Linked DNA regions of Homo sapiens: region 1 is linked to region 2. A link means that fine-mapping ties the variant in region 2 to the expression of a gene that starts in the linked region. Tissue or cell type: whole blood. Region 2 holds a variant in brackets; the other region holds the start of a gene. All regions are shown on one strand. Distances are from middle to middle. Region 1 holds the start of SUSD3 (sushi domain containing 3). Region 2 overlaps FGD3 (FYVE, RhoGEF and PH domain containing 3).

Region 1 (9,964 bases), 31 kb before region 2:
AGGCAAAGTCATGTTCCTGTGGCCTCTCTTGCTGCAGGGGCCACAGAAAGAGAAGCCACTGACCGGCAATGCCCCCTCTTAGCCCCCAGTTGGGTGGGCAGGCTTCCTGGAGGGCTAACCAGTAGGTTCCTGGGGTCTGATCCTGACAAGACCCATCCCAGCAGCAGGTCTTGGACCTGAATTTCTCACCTGGCTCAGCCTCAACTTCCCCGTCTGCAAAACTGGTGACTTGCCCGCCTGGGGTCTGGGAAGAGCAGGACTGCCCTATGGAGATCTTGGAGCAGGATCTGGTGCACAGGATCACTCCCTAGGTCAGGGCTTGAGCAGCCCAGGACATGAGCCCTACTGGGGCCCTGGGCCTCAATCCCCAAGGTCCATGGAACACAGGGAAACTTCAGCCCTTAGCCCTTGATCCCCAAGGTCTGCAGCATACAGGGGACCTTCAACCCTCCAGGCCCCAGTGGGGTCTCCTGTACTCCTTTCCTGAGCCTGGGAGGCCAGGAAACACTTTCTCTGGGCTGGCTCCATTTTCCAGATGAGGAAACTGAGGCCCACAAACCTGCCCAAGGCCCCTGGCTGCATGATGGCAGTGCCAAGAGTAGGAGGCTGGACTCCTGTCCCCTTGGGGTAGCCCTTTCCATAGGATTCACAGCGAACTCACAGCCAGGATTCCGTAGGATTCACAGCGAACTCACAGCCAGGATGGGGCAGGCAGGCAGCACAGTGCCAGGAGCTATGGTCTACAAAGTCTCTACCTGCACCCAACTCCCAGGGACATTCCAAGAAATCACCAAGGCATGAGGATGGAGCTGGTGGATCACCCTTGTCTCTAACCACCGCACAGCCAAGTCCTGCTCACACAGAGACTCCCGGACTCCCAGGGGACCCAGGGCCACCCCTCACTGACCTCCTGAGCCCCTCCCCATGCCTGATGCATGAGAGGCAGATCCCATCTGTCCCCTGTCCCCTCCCCTGCTTCAAATACTCATGAACTCCCAGCTGCCTGCAGATGGCCCTCCTGTGCCTCACCCCTGCAGAGGACCCCACACCCCAGCTGTCTTTGAGGATGTCTGTTCCCTAAAGCTGGAGGCAGAGGCCTTGCCTCTCTGGATCCGTCCTGCCCTCCAGCCCCATCCTACCCACCTGCTGTTCCCCAGCCCATGGTTGTGGCTGCCCTTGGTCTGCCAGCCTAGTGCTGGGGCATTTCTTACCTGGCACCCTTTAGATCCCTTTGCATGTAAATCTTAAAGAAGAGGGAAAAACAACAGAAAACGGATTTGATGCAAACAAGATACAAAATAAAAACACACGAGGCCCTGCCTGGCCCTCCCACGGCTCAGGGGCAGGTGGAGAGGACCAATGGGTACCTCAGGGCCACACCTGTGTGATGCCTGAGCGGCCCTCAGCCCACATGCCGCGCCTGCGCCTCTGCCTGGCCACCTGCTGCAGCTGCGCTTCCTCCCTCCCTGGCCTTATGTACGGAGGGGGCCAAGCCTGACCGGGTGGATTCTCATCCTCCCAGCCTGTGAGGCCAGCCGGGCGTCTGAGAACAATCCGTACTTGTTAATCTTTTATCTGGAACCTTGGACCTCAGGTCGGCCCCTCCATCCTCCCTCCTGGGATTCGCCACACAGCCCCTATAACCTGACCTCGCCTGCTGTGGGATTAAGTAACTATGTTCCCTTTTATGCTGGCTGAGGCTGTGGGAGAGAGTGACAGAGGCAGGCTGCTGAACCCAGTCTCACCTAGACTCGATCCCCACCTGCCAGTGAGTCCCTGTGTGACCTCAATCTGGGTCTCAGTTCCCCCAAATGTGAAACAGGAACCTTCAGGAGGAATTTCTCAGAGTTTAAAGGGGGTGACTTTTGCACACAGAGGTGCTTTGAGAACAGGACCCCCAAGACCCTGGCAGTGGGGACAGGCCTGGCCCCAACACTACATGTGGGTGTCCCACAGCCCTGGCTGTGTGTCTTCAGGTAAGTCACTTGCCCTCTCTGAGCCCATCTCCACATGGAGGGTGAGCACAGGCTTCAGAGCCACTTCTGCCTTCCATCTCCAGGCTGAGCAGCAGGGTGGCCTCAGGATGTGGAAAGCACACAATCCTCCATAAAAGAGCTGGGCTAATTCCAAATGAGGAACATGTACTCCCACATCCCTGGTGGAAAACCGAGGGTCCGGGAACCTATGCCTTCTACCAGCAGCTCTTTCGATGCCAATGGGTGGCAGGAGGCCATAGCCAGGCATCACAGGGTGTGTCTGCCTTGCTTTGATTTACACATGCATTCACGGGGTCTCAGTTTCTCCTCTGTAAAATGGACACAGTCCAGTTCTGGGGCAGGAGTTCAGGGGTGAAGCCAAGAAGGCACCAGCAGAGCATGCCTCCTGCTACCCCCTCTCCAGGCCCTTCCTCCAAGGCCCTTCCACGGATGCCAGGGGGGTTACCTACAGCCACTGGAACCCTGCTTTCCTGGACAATCTCCCAGATCAGGGAGTGCTGGGGCTGACCTGGGAGCAGGGCCAGGGGCCAGTCATACAACAAACATGATAAACTCCTACTCTGAGCTAGTCTCCCCCGCGCCCTGCCCTTCTCCCAGGGCGCTCATGGGAGATGAGGGAAGACCACTTCCTGCCTCTCAGGAAGATCAGTCTGTCCACACTACTGTGCTCTTCATATCTACTCTAGGAAAACCAGTGGTAATGGCCCCATTTTAAAGATGGTGGGAAAAACACACATCCCCGTGCTATGTTTTTGGTTTTTGTTTTGTTTTGAGACAGAATCTCGCTCTGTTGCCCAGGGTGGAGTGCAGTGAGGTGATCACAGCTCACTGTAGCCTCGAACTCTGGACGAAAGCAATCCTTCCACCTTTCAGCCTCCCGAATAGCTGGGACTACAGGCGCATGCCACCATGCTCAGCTAATTTTTTTTTTGCATTTTTTGTAGATACGGGGTCTTGCTATGTTACCCAGGTTGGTTTCGAGCTCCTGGACTCAAGCAATCCGCCCACCTCAGCCTCCCAAAGTGTGGGATTAGAGGCATGAGCCACCACTCCTGGTCAGTGGTGTTTTAGTGTCAAATCCTCTCCAAAGGCTCCCAACCCCCCAGCCTCTAACTTCACAGCACATTTCACAGAGCAAGAAACTGAGGTCACATGGCAGGGGAGTGATGGAGTCCAGATGATGGCATCATCCCTGCACCAGAACAAGTACCCTCCCTGGGCTCCACTGGGCCTGTCCACAAGCTTGGGGGCAGGTATACAGTGGGGAAACTGGGGCACATGGGGAAACTGAGGCACAGAGGTACAGCGACTCACCCCAGGTCACAGGGGGGATCCTAACCCAAAACTCCAACAAGGGGGCCAGTGCCTGGGAAGTGGTCATGGTGGTCAGAGGCAGAGCCAGGGCCAGGCAGGATGAACAAGAGCACAGGGTGCCAGACTAAGCTCCATTCCCAGCACAAATTCCAAGGCAAACAGCCTTTTGTATGCAAATATGCCAGAGCCTCCAGATACTCCCTGGCCTTGGGCTGACCTTGGGCAAGTCAAGGCTATCCAAAGGGCACTGGCACCCACGCCCCCAGGCTGTTGTGCCAGTAGAAGGGGCTCCTCAGGTAGTACCAGGCCCTGGGCAGGCCTTGCTCAAACACAGGAGCAAAAGTGCTCATCACCCCAACACCAAATTAGGGACTCTGGACATTAGGCTGCCAGAGTCAAACTAAATAAACCAAATCCACCAGCGCCAGGAACAAGTCTCAGCGCCCACTTTGCTGAGCTGCGGACCTCTGCTCGGTGAATTAGCTCCCTGAGCCGCAGTTTCCCCAACTGTGAGAGGAAGCCATTCTCCTGCCACCTTCCTGCCAGTTCCCTGGGGCTGCAGGCTGACAGTGTGACCTGGTCCAGCCCACCCCACTCCGGGCCTCAGCTTCCTCCTGCGCAGAGCCTTAGCCCCGCAACGCCTGAGACGCCCAGAACCCTCAGGCCTAACGTTCGTGGGCAGTGGCCGCGGAAGTAAGCTTTTGGGATATCTGAGACCCAGAGTTCCGGTTTGGTTCCGTTTCTAAAAGGGTTAGACTTTAGAATCATTCAAGGAGCAAGGCCAGCATTCGAACCCCGGAGCCTTGGGCACGGGAGCAGACAACTCTTTAAGCACATTCTTGAATTCAAACACTTAAAAGTAAAATAAAAAGCAGCTTCTCTTCCTTCCAAAGGCCTCTGAGCCTCCTCCGAGACAGCCGAGGCGATCCCAAGCCTGGCTACAGGGTGACCTCGGACAGCCACTCCCCTCTCGCAGGCTCAGTTTCTCCATCTGTAAAGTGGAGCTGCGCTGGTCACCAAGGAATCGTGAAGATGACACCTCCCTCAGGCGCAGAGAGGGCTCCCGGCTCCCCCCTCCCGCCCCCGCGCCACCCGCCCGCCAGGTGAGGCCGGTTTCGACTTCCCCGGGAGGGGCGCGGAGGGGCCCGGAGCCTGCGGCGTGGAGAGGCTTGGCCGGCCGCGCTGTCCGCAGACGCCCGGGACCAAGGCGCTGCGGCCACTCGGGAACGGGCGCGCGGGCTGCTGCGTGCAGCCGCCTGGTTTCGAACTGCTCGCTGCCAGGCTTCGGCTCCGCTAGGGCGCCTGCTGGGCCGGCGGAGGGTCGAGGAGGTTCGTCCTCGGGGCAGATCGTTGCTGTGGCCCCCACCCACGGCTGTGCGGCCCCGCGACCCCCTCCCCTCGGCTTTCCCGTCTGTGAAATGGGCGCAGAGCCCCGCACGCGGCCACTCGGCCCCAGCCCTCACCTGTGCGGTTCCCTGGGGCAGGCGTGGTGACCCCGGCCCGCCCCCGGGGCCTCGCCTTGCCACGGAGGGTGGCGGCCGCCCAGCGCATCCTGCGCGCTCCGAGGCGCTTGGCGGGGTCTGCCAGGGGAGTGAGCCCGGCTTGTGGGGGCGGGGCCTGGGCCTGGGCCTGGGTGAGGGGCGGGGAGGCCCCGCCCTCCACGCCCGCCCAGGGGCGGTTCCATGCAACTTACAGACCACGCCCACACGTTGGACTGGGGCCGAGGTCCGGCCGGGGGCTGTGGGCGGGGGCCCTTGGGGAGACCAAATACCCAGCGGGCCAAGGCAGCCGGCTGAGCGGAAAGTGTTGCTACTCCGGGGCGTTGCACGCGTGGCTACCTCTGCCCAACACCCTTCCCCCATCCCTTCCTGTTCTCACCTTCACTCCTAGTGTGGTTTTTCCATGTGCTTCTGTGTTTTTATTTTTTGAGCAGGATTTTGCCTTCTCAGGGTGCCGGATTCGGCCGGTACCAAAGGGCAAACAGCAAAACGCCTCCCCGGCCCGCCCCTCCCGTAACCCACTCACCCCCAGAGTCCTGTGTGGACCCAGCCTTCTTTCCCTGTCTCTCACTGGGCCAGGCCGTCTGAGGCACACTGAGGTCTGGGTGCCCTTGTTGTCTTCGGTTCTCACTGAGGGGCCCCCGGCTGGGGGAAACAGGATGGAAAGCCCTGGGGTCTGTCTGCAGGGCCCACCACACCTGGAGGCCTCCCTTCTCCTGGCTTCCCCTTCCCACCCAGCTCCACTTGCAGCAGGCCCAGAGCTGTGATCCGGGCTCTTTCTCTCCCTCTGACCCCACCCAACCCAGGCTTAGCCCCCTGCCCAGGCAGCCACCAAAGGGTTGGGTGTGGTGTCAGGCCTCAGACATCCTGGATCTTGGGCTGCTTGTGGGAGACCACCTGAGCCATGCCTATTCCTGTGGAGCTGGCAAAGGCAATCCTGGCAGAGGGAACAGCAGGTGCAAAGGCCCTGGTTTGGCAATGTGTGGCAGCAGAAGCCCAGTGCGGCTGGCTTAGGCATGCCTCCAGGAGCGCAGAAGGTGGCCCAGGTGGGCCAGGCTGGCTCTAGAGTGCCTGGCAGGTGACCGTGAAGAGTGTGGATGTTCAGGTGGACCATGAAGCAGGGTTCCAGCAGGGCAGCCCCTCCCCGTCTCTGCTTTCCGAGCCCTCCAAAGCTGAGGTTCAGTGTGAAACGTGAGGGGCCCTCCCCCTTTCGCCATCAGGGTTGGCGTCACCCCTGATATGTTCTTCCCACTTGGACTTGTGGGTCACACACGATGGCTTACTTCAATCTCCTTTATTCAAAATCAAGCATGTGTATTCTTTCTGCCATGTCGGGAAGGGCAGGGCCATCAGCAGTGCCCACTCCAGACCACACTCTGGGACCCCAGAATGTCTTGCCAAGTGGCCCCTAGCCCACCTCTCAGGCCTGTGTGGTCCCTTCCCTGGTTTTGCCCACCATGCACCACCAGGCAGAAGGCCACTGCCTGTAGGTGCATGGACAGGGCTGGGAGGGAGGTCTGGGGCAGCCCTCCAATAGCTGGGTGGAGCTAGGTGGGGATGGAAAACACCAGGCTGCCTGCAGCTCCCTAAGCCACCACGCTGTGACCCAGGCCTTCAGGAGCCTTCAAATGCTAAACACCTGGCCATTTAGGAAGTGTGTTTCCTAGAGCTGTGTAACATAGTACCCCAGACTGGGTGCCTGAGAACAACAGAAATTTATTGTCTTATGGTTCAGGAGGCCAGAAGTCTGAGATCAGGGTGTCGGCAGGCCTGCAGTCCCTCCAAAAACTCCAGGAGAACAGCCTTCCTTGTATCATCCAGCTTCTGGCAGTTCCTTGGCCGGTGGCAACTTAACTCCTGTCTACACATGGTGCTCTCCCTGTGTCTCTCTGTGTTCAAATCTCTCTTCTAAGGACACCAGTCATATTAGATTAGAGCCCACCGTAATGTCCTCATCTTAACTTAAGACCCTATAAAGAGTCTGTAAAGACCGGCCAGGCTCAGTGGCTCACGCCTGTAATCCCAGCACATTGGGAGGCAGAGGCAGGTGGATCATAAGGTCAGGAGTTTGCGACCAGCCTGGCCAACATGGTGAAACCCTGTCTCTACTAAAAATACAAAAATTAGCTGGGCATGGTGGCGCGTGCCTGTAGTCCCAGTTACTTGGGAAGCTGAGGCAGGAGAATCACTTGAACCCGGGAGGCGGAGGTTGTGGTGAGCTGAGATTGTGCCACTGCACTCCAGCCTGGGCAACAGAGCAAGACACCATCTCAAGAAAAAAAAAAAAAAAAAGAAGAGTCTGTAAAGACCTTGTCTCCAAATAAGGTCATATTTGGAGGTACTGAGGGTTAGGACTTAAACATATAGATTTTGGGGGACACAGTTCAGCCCCTGACAGGTGGGATCAAGGAGGAAAGAGCATGTTTTTCTGAGCAGTCTGTCGCTTGGTTGGGTTGTGGACATTCAGGCTTGTGGCGCTGGGCCTCCATTTGTACTGTTAGGGGACCTGGAGGTGGCCTAAGGACCTCTGTCATGTCGTTTCCACAGGGAACTGTATGCCTTGCTGTGGCTCAGAACACCCATTTGCTGCCAAAAGGCCATCTTCAGGAGCTATGGGAGGGATCTGAGGCTGGTTCTGGAGGTGGGCCTGTCACCTATTTGAACACTGATCAGGGCCATCTTGTCCACCTTTTCCCAGGCCCTTGGAATGGTTTGCTCCTAGAAAGCCCAGCTATTCTAGCCATGCACGTGGGCGAAACTGAGGCATGTGAAAAGAACGGCACTGGCCCACTAGGGACAACCGCCTGGGGTGCCCCCTTCCATGGTGAGAACCATGGCTCTCTGACAGGCTTCCCTGATCCCTGGGGCAGGGGTGGGCACCCTTGCACTGAGTCTTCGTGTTCTCATCTGAGGGGTGGACATTGTCCTGCCACCCTCTCAAGGCAAGTGAGAGACTGTGATGTGCTCAGGATGGAGTGGTGGCCTCTAAGCTGGACTGTGAAGGCCCGTCAGCTTTTGAGCTTGGCCCACCCGCTCAGCTGTCCTAGTTGCCTGGTTTCCCAGACTCTCCAAGTCTAGGCACAAACTGGGAGCAGTGCTTAGGCTCTGCCTGCTTGGGTGTGTCTCCTTGCCTTCCTCACCCTCCTTCTCCATGGAGCCCTCCCTGATGGCACTCCCTGTCAGAGCCATTTCGTGCTGCCTGTCCTTAAGGCCTGCTCAGCCTGTGTCACGTCTCTGAAATGAAGAGGACATGTGGCCAGGTGTGGAGCTATGGACATGTGGCCGGATATGGCCGAGAGGATCACTTGAGGTCAGACACACCTGTAATCCCAGCTACTTGGGAGGCCGAGGCACGAGAATTGCTTGAACCTAGGAGGCGGAGGTTGCAGTGATCTGAGATTGCACCACTGCACTCCAGCCTGGGTGACAAAGGGAAACTGTGTCTCAAAAAAAAAAAAAAAAAAAAAAAAAACGCAAAACATATGGGCTTCCCTGCTGGAGGAGGCAGGGGAGGAGGCTAGGAGGAACGGATGGGCTGCTGGCTGCTGGTGAGGCAGGCCGGGAGAAGGAAGCAGAGTCAGGCACAGCCTGAGGAACTGACCAAAGCCACAGCCTCTTCCCAGCTCCATTTGCAACTGGGAGCACACAGTGCACTGTCAGTGGACACTTGTTGGATGGAACCTGGGAGGCAGGGGAGGCCTGCCAGCCCTGGGGCTCAGTGTTCCACTCTGTAACATGGGGGTCTTGTGCGCTGCCAGAGGTTTCCAGAGGAAGGTGAGGGTCTGGCTTGGGAGTTTCCTCTTTCCTCAGACCTTAGCTGAGGTGTTGCCACCCCCAGGAAGCCTTCCTCAACCCTTGATTTGCCTGACTCAGCACCCATGGGCCATGGTGGCCTGGGAGGGGACCCATGCAGAAGTCTGGTGGTGGCAGAGTTCTTGGCTTGGTGAGTTTTTCTAAAATTAGATAATAATTGTGGAAATCTAAAACAGTTTGTTTTGCCTTTTTTTTTTTTTTTTGACAAAGTCTTGCTCTGTCACCCAGGCTGGATTGCAGTGGCATGAGTTCAGCTCACTGCAACCTCCACCTCCTGGGTACATGCAATTCTCCTGCCTCAGACTTCCAAGTAGCTGGGATTACAGGCATGCACCACCACGCCCAGTTAATTTTTGTATTTTTAGTAGAAACAGGGTTTCACCATGTTGGTCAGAGTGGTCTTGAGCTCCTGACCTCAGGTGATGCACCCTCCCTGGCCTCTCAAAGTGCTGGGATTACAAGTGTGAGCCACTGCGCCCAGCCTGTTTTGCTTTATTCTTGATTTTAGTTTTTACTCAATAGAAAAATGAGATTTTTGTTCTGAAAACCTCTCACAATAGACCACGTCCAGAAAGTTCTTTTGCAAAAGGTAAGAGTCAGGGAAGCATTGGTGGCCTCATGGGTGTCCTCTCTTTTTAAAAACTGTATTACCTTTTAAAAACTAAAAGCAAAAAAAGAAAAAAAAAAAGTAACCTGACCTTGAAGCTCTAGCAGGCCAGATGTTTGCAGAGAAAACAATTTTCCCAAAAATGTTTTCTGCTGGGCCATCTGGAGCCCTCAACACCCACCACTTATCCTCCTAAAGCAAGGCAAGAGCCCTGTCCCCACTGTGCAGAGCGACAAAGGCCCCTCCCCGGGGGTACTCCCCTGCTGGGGCCTGAGCTGTGACCACCAGACTGTCCTACCTGGCTGCAGCCTGCACAAGCAGATCAGTCAGCCTGGGTGACATGACATCGAGCTGCCGCCCTCAGGTTCAGAAATGGTGATGCAGAGACACAAAGCAAGGCGCCCAGAGGGCAGAAGGAATGACAGATTCATGGAACAGCTACTACCAAACACCTACTGCATGCCAGGCCAGTTTAGAAGCTGGGATACAGCTGGGCCTAGGAGGGACAAACTCTGGCCAGGGGCTGCTCCCCCCATGCTCATCCTGCACACCAAGGCCTTTACCTGGCCACCACTGGGCTGGCAGATAGCAGGTCATCTTTTTTCCCACCCCTCAACTCTTTTTGTACTTTCTGAATTTTCCACAATGAGCATGTATCTATTCTCTGATAAGAAACAAGGATTTTAAATGCTTTGTAAATGTAAACTATTGCAAAATTTCCCACGGCCATTCTG
Region 2 (9,964 bases):
ACAATAGCCAAAAGCTGGAAGCAACCCGTGTCCATCGGCAGATGAATGGATGAAGTTGTCATGGTCTGTCTGTACAGTGGAATGTGATTCAGATGCATGGGTGGAGCATGGGAATTTAGCCAAGGAGTGCTCCTCAGTGACTTTTCCAGAGCTTTTCCTACCCTGGACACTCCCAGCAGGCCCCTTTGTGCCCCCTCCTCTGGCCCCTGCAGCTGCATCCCATCGGTGGTCCTGTCTCTCTCTGCCTCGGTCTCCCTCCCTCTGCTGGATCCTTTTCCCAGCACAAAGAGGCTCCTGCTGTCTCAGGGCCACCCACACCCACTTCTGCATCTGCTTCTCCTGTTCCATCCTGCCCCACGTACTGAATGTTGCAGAGGACTTGGAGGTCCTTGTTCAAACCTTGGGAAATTCTAGTTTGAACCTAAACCTGCAGGCACTGGCTGCTAAGGGACCATGGCACTCAAACACTGAGCTCATATCGCAGGTCTCAGGAGCCACAGCAGAGGGGAGATTGCTCTTTTCAAGTAGATGGAAGGCACCCTCTTCTGGAGTCCTCCTTTTATGAGCATTTTATTTTTGGAATTTCTCTTTTCTCTATCACTTCTTGTGTGAGGAAGCAGGAATACCGGGCAAACCAAGGCAATGAAAGCCAAGCTAAGCCCCAGCAGGCTGACACGGAGATGCAGTGATGTCACTGAGGGCACCGAGCCACCTCTGCTGGGGAAGTCCAGGTTGGCCATGAGGACGCTCACTCCAAGGAAGATTAATGGAGGCTGCAGCTTCTGATCCTGAGTAGTCACAAAGCCTGAAGCCTGGAGCTGAGCAGGGACCTGGGCATGTATTCTGAGGATGGCTCTTAAAGCAACAGATTCTCTCCTCAGGTCTGATGGGGAAACCAGGTTTGAGTTAAATCCCCCAATTCTAGAGTACAAACTGGGTCCCAAACTGAGAGTTCTTTAAGAGGCACAGATCACATTTCCCACTTGCCTGCCCATCCATCCTCTACCATACATTCATCCATCCATCATCCATCCATCCATCATCCCTTCATCCACCCATCCATCCATCCATCCACCCATTCATTATCCACTCATTCATTCATCCATCCATCCAACCATTCATCTATCCACCCATACTTCCGTATGCCATCCAACTATTCGTCTGTTCATCCATCCATCCATCCATCAATTCTCCAGTCATCCATTTATACTTCCTATATATCCACTTCCATTCATACTTCCATATGCCATTTATCTAACTACCCACCTATCCATCCATCCCCTCATCCATCCATCCACGCATCCATCTACCTATTGATACACCCACCTCTCCAACCACTCATCCATTCATCCATCCTTCTACCCACCCACCCATCCATCATCCATCCTTCCAAGGACTCATCTACTTATTCCCCCCCCCCTGCTGCCCCCCCGCCATGTGGCAAAGGTATGACAAGCAACATCAACCGCTTCAGGCACAGGTTGCTGGTGCCCTTTGGAAAAACACCTCCAAAGCATTCTGTGCTGAGATCCAGTTGCTAACACAGATTCAACTTTAATCTCTTAACCTAAAGATACTTAAATGATCAGTTCCTTCCTCAGGGATACTTTTACATTCAACATTAAGCATTGAATTTTCTCCATTCTCAGGAGAAAGGGCTTTGGAGTGAGGGGAATGGAGATGGTGTGCAGCTGGGGCGCCAGTCGGAGGCATTGCCTCATCACATGGGCCCACCAGGCCTTCAGCACCACTGGAGCGCTGGGGCAAAGGCCAGCAGTAGGAGCTTCCAGCACAGCCACACCCTTCACCCGTCTCCAATACACCTTGCAAGGAATGAGGACTATCATCTCCTTGTTCTCAAGGTCACCCAGCTAGGGGTTCTCTGGTTCCAAATCCAGCACTTTTTCAACCACAAGTAGTGTTTGTTGAACACCAGAGCTGACCAGAGAAAAGTGATTTGATTCTACTTCGGACAGGACAGTTTTGCACTCAAGGGTATCTATATCCATGAGCCAGGATCAGGAAGCCCTTCCGTGCAGGGCTGGTGTGCATGGCTGGTGTGCTGCTGGTGAGGACTCAGCTGCTCTGTCAGAGCAGAGGACAGGGTGGCCTCCTGTCCCTGTCCCCCTCTCCCGGGACTCACCGCCCCACACAGCTTGCAGTGATGCCTCCTCTTGGTGATGGAGTTGAAGGTCTCACCACAGCTCTTACAGCTCTGCTTCTCCTTGTCACGTCTGGTCTTAGAGGATAGTTTTCTGGGCTCGAGCTATAAGGAGGCAAATAGATGCCATCAGCTTCTGAATCATGTGTGCACCCTACCCCACACGGCAGTGGAGTGGCAGCTCTCGTGACTGTAAAAGCCACACAGGCTCAAGGCAAAAAGTGGAACATGCAGAAGGGAATGAAGTGAAGAGCCAAGTCAGCCACGTCTCTCTTCCCTCCCTCACCTCCCAGCGGCTGCCTGTGCCCATGGCACCGAGTAAAGATTTTAAGTGGATCAAGATCTTCATGTTTGGAACAACTTGGCCAATGACTTTATCTGGTGCATCTGAGAAACTATTGAAAGGAGCCACAGCTGGAGGAACACAGCACTTACTAGGGTGGGCAGTGGGCAGCACAGCCATGGCCTGCAGCCCTGGGGACGGGGGCATCCCTGTCTGCAACTGGAGCCGTGTGGCCATGCGCCTGCTCTATACTGGGCACCGCGGGCCACACCCTCCAGGCACGCCACATGGATGAATATAGGTGTGCACCCACATGCCTGAGTGTGCAGACAAGCATGGCAACATTTTAGGGGGAGGCTGGACGCAGTGGCTCATGCCTGTAATCCCAGCACTTTGGGAGGCTGAGGTGGGCAGATCACTTGAGGTCAGGAGTTTGAGACCAGCCTGGCCAACATGGTGAAACTCCACCTCTACTAAAAAATATACAAAAAATAGCCGGGCATGGTAGTGGTAGTGGGTGCCTGTAATCCCAGCTACTCGGGAGGCTGAGGCAGGAGAATTGCTTCAACCCAGGAGGCGGAGGTTGGTTGCAGTGATGCAGTGAACTGAGATCCCGCCATTGCACCCCAGCCTGGGCTATAGAGCGAGATTCTGTCTCAAAAAAAAAAAAAAAAAAAAAAAAAAAAAAAAAAAAAAAAAACTGTGAGGACATGTGAGGAAGCCATGAAGAGCTGAGGCCAGGGTCAGGGGCTGTACCCTCCTCTGTCTCCTGTGCCTGAACTGCCTACAGAGGAGGGTGGTGTGGAGGCTGGAGCAGGTGTAGCCTGGGGCTGCCCAGTCCAGCCTTGGTTTCCCTGTCTGATTATGAACAGTGCCAGGTGGAGAGACCCCAGTCTCCTGCCTCCTGTCAGCCCTGCAACCCTGGATGACTCACCTCTCCTTTCTGAGCCTCAGTTTCCTCACCTGTAAAATGGGATGGGTGACTGGTCCCTGGGTCGTAAGCCTCATCACAGTACATAAAACCCCGACTGCGTTTGGCAAGTTGCTAATTACCGTTTCCTGTTACAATAGCCTGCAACCCCTGGAAAGGCCCCATCATTTGATGAAATAACTTCCTGGGCTTTTGAAGCTTGGTCCACACCCAGCATTTCCTCTCTGGGGAGGAGGTGCCTCCCTTGAGACACTTTGTTATGGGTGCCGAAACCACTGTTAAGAAGACTTTAGGAAAAGGCAAAGATATGTATCGAGTTCCCCAGGATGTCAGAGCTGGAACTGCCACTAGAAATGTTTATCTCAACCTCTCCAGTCAGGGAAACTGAAGCCTGCAGGTGTTTTTCTTTCTTTTTTTTTTTTTTTCCTGTTTAAAAGAAAACTACCTAAAATAAGCTTACCATTACTGTAGCTGAGCAGAATAAAAAGAGGTCTGGGATATGCTTTAAAATATTACAGAAAATTGGGGTGTGTGTGTGTGTGTGTGCGTGTGTGTGTGTGTGTGTGTCGGGGCTAGGGGCTGAGGGGCCATAAGAACAGCACCAGGCTGAGGTTTCTGGAGCTGGGGAGGGATACTCATTGCGGTTATCCCCACTTGTATGGGTCCAAAACTGCCTTAGGAAAATGCTAAACAACATACGCTTAAAAAAAGTTTAACATAAACTCTTCAGGTTTAAGGAGAAGGAGGCCCAGGCGCAGTGGCTCGCACATGTAATTCCAGCACTTTGGGAGGCTGAGGCGGGAGGGTTGCTTGAGGCCAGAAGTTCGAGACCAATCTGGGCGACATAGTGAGACCCCGTCTCAACAAAAATCCAAAAAATTAGCTGATGTGGTGGCACGTGCCTGTAGTCCCAGATATTTGGGGGGCTTAGGTAGGAGGATCGCTTGAGCCTGGGAGGTCAAGGCTACAGTGAGTTGTGATCACACCATTGCACTCCAGCCTGGAGAGCACAGCAAGATCCCAACTCAAAAAAAAAAAAAAAAAAAAAAGAAAGAAAGAAAAAGATGAACTGAACTGGTTGGGGGTGAAGAAGCAAGAAAGGGGTGGCTCAGATTGGGCATAAGCATTGGAGGCTGTGATGGGCTGAACTATGTCCCCCCAAATTCGTATGTTGAAAATATAATTCCCAGTAACTCTGAATGTGACTATATTTGGAGACAGGGCCTTTAAAGAGACATTAAGTTAAAATGAGGTCT[C/T]AGGTTGGGCCCTGATTCAATCTTACTGGTGTCTTTATAAGAAGAGATGAGGACACAGAGACACAGAGGGAAGACCATGTGTGGAAACAAGGAGGAAACTGACATCTCCAAGCCAAGGTGAGGCCTCAGGATAAACCAACCCTACCCACACCTTGATCTCAGACTTCAGCCTCAGGTAGTATTTTGTTCTGGCAGCCCCAACAAACTGACACCAGTGCCTCTGTGCAAATTCTGGCCGGGCACTTCCAGCTGTGTGGCCTGGTTTGTGGTCCCCGTTCATTGGCCCACCTGCAGGTCCCCCCAGCACCTGTCCTGCTTGGCACAGGAGCCCAAGGGCAGGGCTGGCTTGAGGGTGACAGGGACTCTCACTCGCTGTGCTGCAGCCCCCGGCACCTCTGTTGAATGGGCCTTGCTCCAAAGACACAGGTGAGGCGGCCTGGGCTCCCTCTGCAGTTTCTCTCACACCCAAGACCACAGTGGGGGCTCCAAGCACACTAGGTGGGGAATGGGCATCACTGACCTGGCGGCAAAAACCTCTTCTCCAGGTGGGCACCCAGAGAGGCTGGGAAGTGGGAGTGATTAGTGGAAGGGCAGCCCCGATGTGCACCTCAGCCCAGAACTGCCTGCTCTTGACCCCGGAAGGGGGACCCTGGCCACGGCACCCAGGGGCAGCACTGCATGGTAGCTGAGAACAACACAGGGCGTGCCCATGGGGCAGGGGGCAGCAGGGGCTGAAGGAGCAAAGAACAACCATGTGGGAGGACAGGTACCTGCGGGGCTGGGTGCACAGCAAGAGCTTGGCCTCTGAGGACCAGTGGGACCGGGTCCCAGTGAAGGGACAGAGGACAATTCTGGAAGCAGTGAGTGTGGCTCAGGGCTGAGGCAGTGCCGGGAGTCCCACTGGCTTCCTTTATCTGGCAAATCTTCCCAGCTATGGAACTGAGCTGAGCACTTGGGGTGGGTCCTGGCCCTGCACCAGCTCCCATGGAGCTGAGGTCCGCAGCCCGTCGAGGCCAACCCTCCAGCTCCCATCATCAAGGTGTGGCTGAATTTGTAGGCATGACGCAGTAGCTGAGAGGCAAGAGGCCCACCTGAGTAGCGAGGGATGCTCTCTCGGCCATGCACACGCCCCTTTGTGAATGAAGTTACCACGCAGGTTGACCCAAAAAAGGGAGCTCAGGTTTTCGTTGTGGATGTCGGGATATCAGAAAAGCTGGGCCCAAGTCTCTCCAGGAACATGGAGAACTGTGGCTTCCTCAGTATCTGACCGAGTGACTTCACCCCCAAAGCGCCCAAAACACACCAGCGTTGACCCAGAAAGTGGTCTCCACCAAGGGCCAACGGGGCTGCCCCCTCCAGCATTTTTTCTTGAGCAAATTGAGCTGCACATCCAGGAACGGGGGGCACAGCTGAGTTACACAGAATTGGAGCCCAGTAAGAGGCCCTGATGAAACCGAGTCAGTTTCATCAGCTGCTTGAAATGACCCAGCAGGGGACACAGGCTGTGAGGCGCAGGCACTGCCTGGGGCTATTCCAACAGGAGGGTGGCCAGGCTGAGGCCTGATGCCTCTGCTCCAGCCCTGCCCTGGAGCCCCGAGGGTGGACACAGGGCGTGGCCTCGTCCCAGGAGGGGCAGTGCCTGAGAAGAGGCCCTGGCACTGGCCTGTCAAGGGTGCCCTTAGATGCCTCGCTGGCTCCTTGGAGGGGTTCGTGTGTCACCCATGGTGGGTCTGAGGCCCTAAGAGACCTTTTGGATTCTGACATTTTGTGTTTCTGTTAAGAGCAACTCCACGCTTGCCCATCAGGGAAGGCTTTGAATTCTGCAAGGCCCCTTGCAAAACTTCCTGGCTTGGGTGTAGCTTCTCCTAGGAAAGGGGCTTACAGGGACTATACCACTGAAGAAATTGGGCTCAGGAAGTAAGTTGAAGTTTGGTATACTGTAGCAAAAATCACTGTTGTTGATGAGAGAATGAACTTGCTTTTGAGTGCTTTGTAAAACGCACACTGAGCTCACCTCCATCACACCACATTCACCCTGTGCAGCTTGACACAGACACTGAGCTGTCCCAGCTCCTACCCTAGTCTCAACTCTGCTGTTTTTGCTCACAGGAAGACACCAGTGAGGAACACAGGGCCAGGCCAGGCCACATCCACTGTTCGTAGGGAGGCCCTGGGCTGGAGCTGAGGTCTGTGGTTGTTTGGTGGTCTGTCGTGGGCCCAGCTCTGGCTTGGTGTGGGTAAGGGACAGAGACAAGAGACCAGAACTGGAATTGTGACCCTGAGTACCTGGCTCCCCAGGCTGCTGCAGAACCTGAGGCAGCTGAACCCTGGGCCAGGGGAAGTAAAGGGAGTGGGGCAGGCGGTGCTGTCCACCCAGCTGGGCGCACCCATCGAGGCACAGCGGGTCTGCTGGCCACAGCCTGGTCCAGCAGATGCCCGGACACTGACTGAGGCCCTGAGCCCCAATTACCTTCTCGCCTGTGACGGAGGCAGGCGGCCAATAGGGGCATTGCCTGTGTGGCCAGCAGCGCCTGACAGCTTCTCTGATCTCTCTGCCCAGAGCCAAGTGAGGCTCAAGAGGCGGCATTTGCTCAAAGCCCTGCTCCAAGGCCATCTCCAAGCTGTGTCTTCCCACAAGTTAAAACATTTTAAACAATGGCCTTGCAGGTTCTTCCAGCTAGAACATTCTCCTGTCAGGGCACCAACCCGGGGGTTAGACTCCCCAGGACCCTGTCCCACACTCAGACGCCCTGTGTGGATCCCCTCAGCCAGGCCTGGGCTCCTGCTGTTCCTACAACCCGCCCAGGTCCTGCCCACCCAGGGCATCCCTCAGCACGTGGCCTCCACCCACTTCTGCTTCCTTGCCTACCCAAGACACTGAAGGTGCCTCTCCATGTCGTATGGGCTCACACCAAGGACAGACGCATTCACAAACGACAGGTGGCTCTCACTGAGCCTTGATGCCTCTGCGGCAGGACTGTGACCACGGATGTCTCCATAAGCCTGGCCCAGGGCCCGGGGCTGGACATGGAGGGTCATCAGGCAGAGGCCAGCCAAGTTCATACCTTATGTGAGCTGTGTGTGTGGGAGGCAGTGCTCTGTGCCAGGGCATCACCATGGAAACTGTCAGGGATGTCTGCCCTGGCTGTGGGATTCCAGGCAGTGGGGCTGATCAGGCAGTGCCTCATATGCATGGGTGTGGGCTGTCACGTCCCCACTGTGACCCTGCGATTGTGTGTCCACTGTGGGCAGCTCAAGCTTCTGTGGCTGCACTCACACTATGAGTACACATTGCTTTTCATAACTTTCCTAAATGCTCCAGAAAAGGGCCTAAAGAGCTCTGTGAGTCTGGGGCACAGCCAGCCTCACACTTACTGTTTGGCAATACAAAAAGTTGCTGACGGGCGGATTCCCATCATAGGCTGGGCATGGTGGCTCACGCCTGTAATCCCAGCTGAGGCGGGCGGATCACAAGGTCAAGAGATTGAGACCATCCTGGCCAACATGGTGAAACCCCGTCTCTACTAAAAATACAAAAAATTAGCTGGGCATGGTTGCACGTGCCTGTAGTCCCAGCTACTGGGGAGGCTGAGGCAGGAGGATCACTTGAACCTGGGAAGTGGAGGTTGCAGTGAGCTGAGATTGTGCCACCGCACTCCGGCCTGGGCGACAGAGCGACTCCGTCTCAAAAAAAAAAAAAAAAAAAAAAAAAAGTTGCTGATGGGCGGGTTCCTGTCATTGAGACATTTTTATCAGGGTCCCCCGGGGCAGGCTACAGGGCTTCATAGACTTGGACAGAGCAAACAGCAGGTGTCAAGGCCCTGGGGCCTAGCAGGGCAAGGGGAACCCAGGGCATCTCAGGGGAGGGTGGCCAGGAAGCTGGGTGAGGCCAGACACAAGAAGAGACAAGTGAGAGGAGATTCTCTCCTAGGAGGCCAGGGCACCACTTTCCCCCAAGCTGCCCACCCCGTGTCAGACTTCCTCGTTTCAGTGTTAATAAGATGTCCCTGCAGGGTGCCTGTCTGCTCTGCAGAGGCCAGGTGGCTGCGCTTTGTGAATCTGGGGTCTCTCCTCTTGCCCGTTGGGATGTATGTGCAAGCCCCCCACGCCTCCACACTCCGTCGTGCCCCTGAAGCACTACATCTTTCCCGAGGCCTCCTGAGTTTCTTCATGGTTTCCCAGTGCCCGGCCAGCCCAGATCATGATGGGTGGGGCCTGGTAAAGCTCAGGTCATGGGAGGGGGCAGCCAGCGGCCAGCCCACCTGGAAAGACCCGTCTTGGATGGGGCTAGGGCAGCCATCTGGGGCCATGTCATTCCTGGGCCTGCACAGCATGGGGTGAGGCGAGGCACCTGGAGAATCACCCTCCTGCATCTGGGCACAGCAGCCACATCGGGGTGCTCCACGGTGATGTTGCTGTCAGCGTTGGTGAGTGCCAGGCCTGGGCACCAATGATGATGGCTCCAGGTACAGATGCTCTTGGCCCTCATCCTCTTTAACTTCCCAGATTAAACGGAGGGAGGCAGGCCTTATCCCAGTTCCCTATCCCCTGGCAGGCGGGCGCGTGGACACAGTCTGCCTGGCCGGAGCAGCACCCTTGTGGGCTGGCTGCCATAAGGCACACGAGAACACAGACGGGGAGAGGCAGGGAGGCTTAGGCCTCCCTGGCCGCTGCTTGGGGTGAAGAACTAAGCAGTCCTCTGCATTACCGAGCCTCCTAAGGACCTTGCACTGTTAATACATGCTTTATGGGACGATTCACACATGTTAAGAGCATAAATGTTCACTTGGAGCTCAGAAGATTCTCACATGTGTGCCCAGCTGTGTGACCACCTCCAACCAGGTAATGGACATCCCCACACTGACAGGCCTCTGCGTGCCCACCTTACAGAGTCCCCTGCAGTGACCACACAATTCATCAGTGCCTGGACTCAGACATAGCTTCACCTCCGCACACCCAGGCCCCCAGTCACAGTGAGCAGGGCAGACTGGCCCCTCAGCCCTCCGCCTCCAGGAGGCCCTGGTCTGACCCTCCCTCTCCATCTTCCCTATAGGTCATCCTGGTCTGACCCCCTGCTCTGCCTTTCACCCCTGCTGACCGCTGAGCATGGGGCACTTACCCCTGCTGCACCCGAACTGCCTTCGGTGGTCACCACAGGCTCCACAGGGCTGGTGCTCGTGATCTAGAAGGGACACAGAGGCCGAGTGAGAGGAGATTCCAGGGCCACGCAGCCACTGTGCAGCGGGGGGACAGTTCCTGAAGCCCCCAGCACCTCTGTGCATTGAGGGCAGGCTCGGGAGCAGGATTTCCCAGGCCTAGGATTTGCTGTGCCT

Evidence for each region. PIP is the estimated chance that this variant, and not a neighbour inherited with it, causes the effect.
Region 1: it holds the start of SUSD3, and the variant in region 2 is fine-mapped to the expression of SUSD3 in whole blood (TOPMed, PIP above 0.99).

What each region holds. Positions count from the first base shown.
Region 1 is chr9:93,053,641-93,063,604 of GRCh38, reverse strand. It overlaps SUSD3 (sushi domain containing 3), which reads right to left and starts at 4,904. Exons shown (of 5, transcript NM_145006.4): 1 at 4,775-4,904. The coding sequence starts at 4,862. RefSeq lists enhancers at 772-1,339, 2,730-2,779, 2,848-3,828, 3,829-4,809 and silencers at 4,320-4,729, 4,740-5,189.
Region 2 is chr9:93,022,176-93,032,139 of GRCh38, reverse strand. It overlaps FGD3 (FYVE, RhoGEF and PH domain containing 3), which reads right to left. Exons shown (of 18, transcript NM_001083536.2): 14 at 9,751-9,813; 15 at 2,144-2,266. Among named protein-coding and RNA genes, the nearest start is that of SUSD3, 32 kb to the left of the region's middle. RefSeq lists enhancers at 2,114-2,613, 2,614-3,115, 6,222-7,013, 7,014-7,806, 9,370-9,964. The variant C/T (reference allele first, on the strand shown) is at 4,632.